Homo sapiens: one gene and its partner. The protein of the gene in region 2 purifies or fractionates together with the protein of the main gene of each other region. This does not show direct contact. Each region holds a gene or a part of one and is shown on either strand. Other genes may lie near its edges.

Region 1 (3,754 bases), on a different chromosome or scaffold from region 2:
AGCTGCTATATGACGGCTACATCAGCATCGCCAATGGCCTCATCAATGAAATCAAGCCTCAGTCTGTGTGTGCACCCTCGGAGCAGCTCCTGCATCTCATCAAACTCGGTAGATTGTGAACACAAATCCATACGTCCCATGGCAAGGTTTTAGATATTTTCATATGGCAGAATTTTTCAAGATTATTCTTGTTTTGTTTCAGTACCTAGTATGAGCCGGGTACTTCAGTAAGTAAGTAGTTCAGCATGAGTTCAGGAAGTAGCTCAGTAAGTAAGGGGTAAAGCAAAGTTCAGATTATGAAGACCTTAAGCTGGTTCTGGCCTGAGGGTCTTTGTACACATTATCTGGAACACTCTGTCAGACATATTACTGACTTCCTTCAGATTTTACATCAAATGTCATCTGAGTTCTCTTAACTCCTCCTAAAATAATCCGACCCTTTCGTGCATTTTCCCGGTTACCCTGCCATAGCGATCCCATTTGTTTTATAACAGTTGTTTTGAAATTTCCTTTATCATTTGGGCTGTTTCCCATGGGATCCTTACCTCCACACTTCCCACCTACTGCTGCCCCCTTGTCAAAAAAGACTACAAGTTGAGTAAGGATCAGGACCTTGTATTATTCAGCAGTATATCCTGGAGCCTACCTGGCTAATAATAGAAAGCACTCAATAAAATATTGAATTACCAAACATGTTAATACCCTTTGACTTGGCAGTGCCAATTGTGAGCATTTCTCCTGGGGAAATAAAATGGACAAACTGCAATGCCAACAACATGGAATTAGCTGTAAATTTTTAAATATCCATAAAAGTGAATACTATAACATAATTATATAGATGAATATTTATTAGCCAAGATACACTTTTGTTCTGCTTGATTAAGTGAACAAGTGAGTCACAACATGTTACACAGCATTGCTCTATTACTGTTTTGAAAAATAAAACAGCCGTGCACGGGGAAGGATCCCTAAGAATTTATACCGATACGTTAACAGTTATTATCTCTGGGTGGTAAAATTCAAGGTCATTTTTATTTTCTTGTTCATCCATAGTGTTAATTTTTCCTCTACTAATCAACATATTATTTGATTTGTCAAGTTATTTATAAATTTTAAATGCATATTCTTGATAAACCAGTTTTTTTTAAATAACTTTATTTCAAAAACATTTCACTAGCATTCATGTTAACAATGTAGCTAACTTAACGAGCATCAGAGCTGCTAATATATCTCAACCCTAAAAATATTAAAATTTGGAATGGAAAAAAATGGATAATTTAACTACAGAACTGCTATTTTTTGAGTTTCTGTAGTTGTAGATAAAGTAGTAAACTCTGGAGGCAAGAACCTGGGGAAATGACTTTGTCTATTGGAGCCTAACCTTCCAGCAACCCATGTGGCCTCACAGCGTGGTGAACTTTGAATAGCATGGGCAAAATACACAGTTTTGTAAAGTGTTAGGTGTCACGCGGCTCCAAGAAATAGGAGGTTGACACTGGTGAGCATCTTTCCAGTTTGGATCTAGAATTTTATCTTGGCCTTTTTAAGAAAAAACACTTGTTTTGTTACGCCCTTAATTTTGATTTCTTTCAGGAATGGAAAACGATGACACCGCAGTTCAGTATGCAATTGGTCGTTCAGATACTGTTGCCCCTGGCACAGGGATTGACCTGGAATTTGATGCAGATGTTCAGACTATGTCCCCAGAGGCTTCTGAGTACGAAACATGCTATGTCACATCACATAAAGGACCATGCCGTGTAGCTACCTATAGTAGAGATGGACAGTTAATAGCTACTGGGTCTGCTGATGCTTCGATAAAGATACTTGACACAGAGAGGATGTTGGCCAAAAGTGCCATGCCAATAGAGGTAAAAATTCCAGTCACATACTTATTGATTGCCTTCTGTTTTTCATTTTTGGAAAAATGAGAGTATGGTTGAAACCAGCTTTAGTTTGCTACAGTTGTGGATTGTGCACTTGGATTCAGACACATTCTGTGCCTTGAGCATCTCTTCTTGTTGGTCTAGGTCATGATGAATGAGACCGCACAACAAAATATGGAAAACCACCCAGTGATTCGAACTCTTTATGACCATGTGGATGAAGTCACGTGCCTTGCTTTCCACCCAACAGAACAGATCCTGGCTTCTGGTTCAAGGGATTATACTCTTAAATTATTTGATTATTCCAAACCATCAGCAAAAAGAGCCTTCAAATACATTCAGGTAGGAATCTTTAGAAAGGAGCTTTACATTTTTTCTTAAATACAATGAGCTATTGTACAACTATTCTCTTTTTAAAAGTAGTCTCAGTGATCATCCTGTAAGATGCGTACAGACCAGGATGCATGCCCGATGGCACATGGATCAGATTTTGTTGGCACATAGATCACATGCTATCATGTACCTGCTCCCTCTGGCTGGTCAGAGTTTATAATCTGACCCTTTGGAGGGTTTGGAATCCATATCACTCTCTAAAGGTTGTAGATCCCTGTTATAAACAAAACACGACCAGCTTCACTAATATATAACTTAGAGGAATAAAAAAAAAGTTCATTTGAAAGTATTAAGTATTTCCTGGCAAGGTGACATTCGGTACCCTATTTTGAATATGCATTGCAGAAATACTAATGTTTTAGTTGTGGCTTCTGTCTGTTTGATAATTAAACTAGGCTGGTTGCAGTGGCTCATGTCTGTAATCCCAGCACTTTGAGAAGCCAAAGTGGGAGGATCACTTGAGCCCAGAAGTTTATGGTCAGCCTGAGCAATGTAGTGAGACCTCATCTCTACAAAAAATTCTTTTAATCAGCTGGGCATGGTGGCACGCGCCGATAGTCCCAGCTACTCAGGAGGCGGAGGCAAGGATGATCATTTGAGCCCAAGAGGTTGAGCCTGCAGTGAGCTGTGACCATGCCGCTGCACTCCAGCCTGGGCGACAGAGCAAGACCCTGTCTGAAAAAAATAATAATAAACTTAATTTTTCACTCAATATTTGCAGCCCTAGAGCAAATTAAAGAAGCTCTTAGGTACAAGTTGTACTTCAGTTAACCATGCATGAATGTGTCATTGTCTGATAATACTCCATCCTTAGTTTACTCAGTGTTCATTTGTAAATAATGAAGCTCACTTCTGTAGTTTTTGGAATAATATAACCAGTAAATATTTAGTTTTGGAAATCTATTCAAAAAATACTTTCATATGTTCCAGAAAGCACTTTTTTTCTTATGATACCTGTGTAATATCTAATAATTGTTTTATAGATTCTTTTCATCAGCCAGATATTTTCCACATTTCCTCTGGATTTAATTGTTCACCAGTTGGTCACTTGTATTAATGTCTCTGTCCCAACAGGAAGCTGAAATGTTACGTTCCATCTCTTTTCATCCTTCTGGAGACTTTATACTTGTCGGAACTCAGCATCCTACTCTTCGCCTTTATGATATCAACACCTTTCAATGTTTTGTCTCTTGCAATCCTCAAGATCAACACACCGATGCTATATGTTCCGTTAATTACAATTCTAGTGCCAATATGTACGTAACTGGAAGCAAGGACGGCTGCATCAAATTATGGGATGGTGTTTCAAATCGATGCATCACAACTTTTGAGAAAGCACATGACGGTGCTGAAGTTTGTTCTGCCATTTTTTCCAAAAATTCTAAATACATTCTCTCAAGTGGAAAAGACTCTGTAGCTAAACTTTGGGAAATATCAACGGGACGAACACTGGTCAGATACACGGGTATGTGAGA
Region 2 (3,754 bases):
TAGTTTTTTTAAATGATACTATCCTTAACCCCTCCCCTTTCGTCCCCAATAAAAGAATCACACTGGGGAAACATTGCTAGCAGGTGACTATTCCGTTTCTTTGACATAGCAGGAAAATCTTATTAGGTGATGTAAATGAACCTTGTCACTTGCAAATATAAACTGTCGCGCATCTTGGGTGAACAGCTAAGTGCAGAACTGTTTCAAAAACTTGAAGGTAAATGGATGTCTTATTTGCAGCTAAACCATCATACTCATGTCAAATCTATTCATTGGAATAGGATACTGAAGATACATAATACAATTTTTTTGCTGAAATTTAAAAGTTTCATAATCCACTTAAGAGGCATATTTCAGAATAAAATAATTCTCTGTTTTGGAATTAAAGCACAGGCTTGGAGCAGTCCAGTCCACAGAAGTATAATGCAATCTATCCATATAATTTTAAATTTTCTAATAGCCACATTTAAAAAAGTAAAATGAAATGAATAACATTAACTTCAAAATAATTTTTTACTCAAATATATAAAAATATTACATTTCGACTTATAAAAAATATAAAATTGATGGGCTATTTTTACTTTTTTTGTATTTGATCATTAAAATCTTTCATGTATGTTACATGTATGGCACACCTCAACCAGTATGTTAAATTTTGACTGGAAATACTTTCTTTTTATTTGTTTTTATTTTTTGTCTTAGTGTTCTTCAAAATGATTTTTATTTAGAACACAATTTATTATTGCAAAAGTAGATTCTATATCCAAGTTGTTCTAAATACTAAAAAAGTTTTCCAATAGCTTACTGAACATTAGTTTTTATATTTAAATAAAAAATGAGATTTAAAATTCATTTCTTCAATCACACTAGCTTCATTTCATATATTCAATACACGTAAGGCAGTGTAGAATTGGAGCTATGCGAGACCAAGCTGGGTTAGAATCCTGACTTGGCCTCTTTCCAGCTGCTTGTCCTTGGGAATTTACCTAGCCCTCTCCAAGCTTCAGTTCTAGCTTCGAATTGCAGGCGGGGAAACACCACACTGAATATGTTTTAACTCCTACCTGCAAAGCTAACAGCAGAAGACAAACACCCGCTATTTGTTTCTCCCTTCATGGAAGTGGTGGACTCACTGCATGATATAATAAAAATCAGAACCAATCAACGTAGGGATAGTTAAGTAAATTTCTTTATTCCATACTCTGAAGCCATAAAATACTAATAACTAATTAATCACTAATTTATTTAATCACCAATTAATATTGAAATCGGTTGTTATTAAGGAAGAAAACCGTAATATTAGGAATAGCACGACGGCTGCCCGTGTGCTCAGGAAAAACCTAGAAGGGTCTGCCACCCATCCATTAACAGCGGTTATAGGAAGCAACAGAATGGGGGCAGGGCCCAGCCGGCACACGCTTCAGTTTATATTTCTTGTCAGTTAATTTCCAAAAACGTTGTTCTAAAAAGGAGATATAATACTGTTTTAGTTTAAGGGGCAAATCTCAAATGTGCTGAAACGACTACGCTTTTCCCTCAGTCTGGAATGTGATTTTAAATCTAGCTTAACTATACTATAATAAAAGGCCACATGAAAATACTTTGTCAGAACGAAAAACACGCCGCCTTAAATCCGCTTTCGGTTGGCGGTTTCCCGCCAGCGGAACGGAAGCAAAACCGCCTTTGACGTCAAGGGAAGAGTCCCCTCCCAGTTACTACGGTGAAGTCTATGCGGCCATCTTTACTGTGGTCATCTCGTACCAAGCGTGTCGTAGTGGGGCTGTTGGGGCCCCACAGAAAGTCAGCGGAACGTGAAATGGGAAAGGAATCATGCGACTCTGTAATAAGAAGCTGACAGAACCATGAAGGATCAGGGACTGAAAGCATTAGATAAGTTGTTAGTGGGATGCAGGTTCCACAGGCAAGCGGAACGATTCAAGCGAATTAGTAAAGTTTCTGCCCGGATCTTGAAAGCCGCTTCCGTTGCTCAGCGGAAGTGTCGGTCGCAAGAGGACAGACGCCTCGAAGAATCCGCTATCGGCTGTCTGCACAACCGGAATCATGTCGAGTTTGGCGGTGAGAGACCCGGCAATGGATCGATCACTGCGTTCCGTGTTCGTGGGGAACATTCCATATGAGGCAACTGAGGAGCAGTTAAAGGACATTTTCTCGGAGGTTGGTTCTGTTGTCAGTTTCCGGCTGGTATACGATAGAGAGACGGGAAAACCCAAGGGCTATGGCTTCTGCGAATACCAAGACCAGGAGACCGCGCTTAGTGCCATGCGGAACCTCAATGGGCGGGAGTTCAGTGGGAGAGCGCTTCGGGTGGACAATGCTGCCAGTGAAAAGAATAAGGAGGAGTTAAAGAGCCTTGGGCCTGCAGCGCCCATTATTGACTCACCCTATGGGGATCCCATCGATCCAGAAGATGCCCCTGAATCGATTACCAGAGCAGTAGCCAGTCTCCCCCCGGAGCAGATGTTTGAGCTGATGAAGCAGATGAAGCTCTGTGTCCAAAACAGCCACCAGGAAGCTCGAAACATGTTACTTCAAAATCCACAACTGGCTTATGCACTGTTGCAGGCACAAGTAGTGATGAGAATCATGGATCCAGAGATTGCTCTGAAAATTCTGCATCGGAAGATACATGTCACACCACTGATCCCAGGCAAATCTCAGTCTGTGTCTGTCTCTGGCCCTGGCCCTGGCCCTGGCCCTGGGCTCTGCCCAGGACCTAATGTTCTGCTGAACCAGCAGAATCCTCCAGCTCCTCAGCCTCAGCATTTGGCTAGAAGACCTGTGAAGGACATTCCTCCTCTGATGCAGACTCCTATCCAGGGTGGAATTCCAGCTCCAGGGCCAATACCAGCTGCAGTTCCCGGAGCTGGTCCTGGTTCCTTAACTCCTGGAGGAGCAATGCAGCCCCAACTTGGAATGCCAGGGGTTGGCCCAGTGCCTTTAGAGCGGGGACAAGTGCAGATGTCAGATCCTAGAGCTCCTATACCTCGCGGACCCGTGACTCCTGGTGGTCTGCCTCCTCGAGGACTGTTAGGAGATGCTCCAAATGACCCACGTGGAGGGACTTTGCTTTCAGTCACTGGAGAAGTGGAGCCCAGAGGTTATCTGGGTCCACCCCATCAGGGTCCCCCCATGCATCATGCCTCTGGTCATGACACTCGTGGCCCTTCCTCACATGAGATGAGGGGAGGGCCATTAGGAGATCCCAGACTGCTAATTGGAGAGCCCAGAGGCCCCATGATAGATCAAAGGGGTCTACCTATGGATGGTAGAGGTGGTAGAGATTCTCGAGCGATGGAGACTCGTGCCATGGAAACTGAGGTCTTAGAGACACGTGTAATGGAGAGGAGAGGAATGGAGACCTGTGCGATGGAAACCAGAGGGATGGAAGCAAGGGGCATGGATGCAAGAGGATTGGAGATGAGGGGCCCTGTCCCCAGTTCAAGAGGCCCTATGACTGGTGGAATTCAGGGTCCTGGTCCCATTAATATAGGGGCAGGTGGCCCTCCTCAGGGACCCAGACAGGTCCCAGGCATTTCAGGGGTGGGGAATCCTGGAGCTGGTATGCAGGGTACAGGCATACAAGGAACAGGCATGCAGGGAGCAGGCATACAAGGAGGAGGGATGCAGGGGGCAGGCATACAAGGAGTCAGTATACAAGGAGGAGGTATACAAGGAGGAGGTATACAGGGGGCAAGCAAGCAAGGTGGAAGCCAGCCTAGCAGTTTTAGTCCTG

What was found. Proteins that work in one complex are often made in the same cells at the same time.
Region 1: the proteins of CSTF2T (region 2) and CSTF1 purify together in Homo sapiens (affinity purification with mass spectrometry; 3 studies listed by BioGRID and IntAct, with this or other methods). This does not show direct contact.

Annotation. Positions count from the first base shown.
Region 1 is NC_000020.11:56,395,614-56,399,367, forward strand, and holds part of CSTF1 (cleavage stimulation factor subunit 1), read left to right. Parts: coding exon 1-108; intron 109-1,593; coding exon 1,594-1,871; intron 1,872-2,030; coding exon 2,031-2,228; intron 2,229-3,353; coding exon 3,354-3,744; intron 3,745-3,754. UniProt on the Homo sapiens protein: One of the multiple factors required for polyadenylation and 3'-end cleavage of mammalian pre-mRNAs. May be responsible for the interaction of CSTF with other factors to form a stable complex on the pre-mRNA.
Region 2 is NC_000010.11:51,697,857-51,701,610, reverse strand, and holds the start of CSTF2T (cleavage stimulation factor subunit 2 tau variant), read left to right. Parts: upstream 1-2,015; 5' UTR 2,016-2,061; coding exon 2,062-3,754. UniProt on the Homo sapiens protein: May play a significant role in AAUAAA-independent mRNA polyadenylation in germ cells. Directly involved in the binding to pre-mRNAs.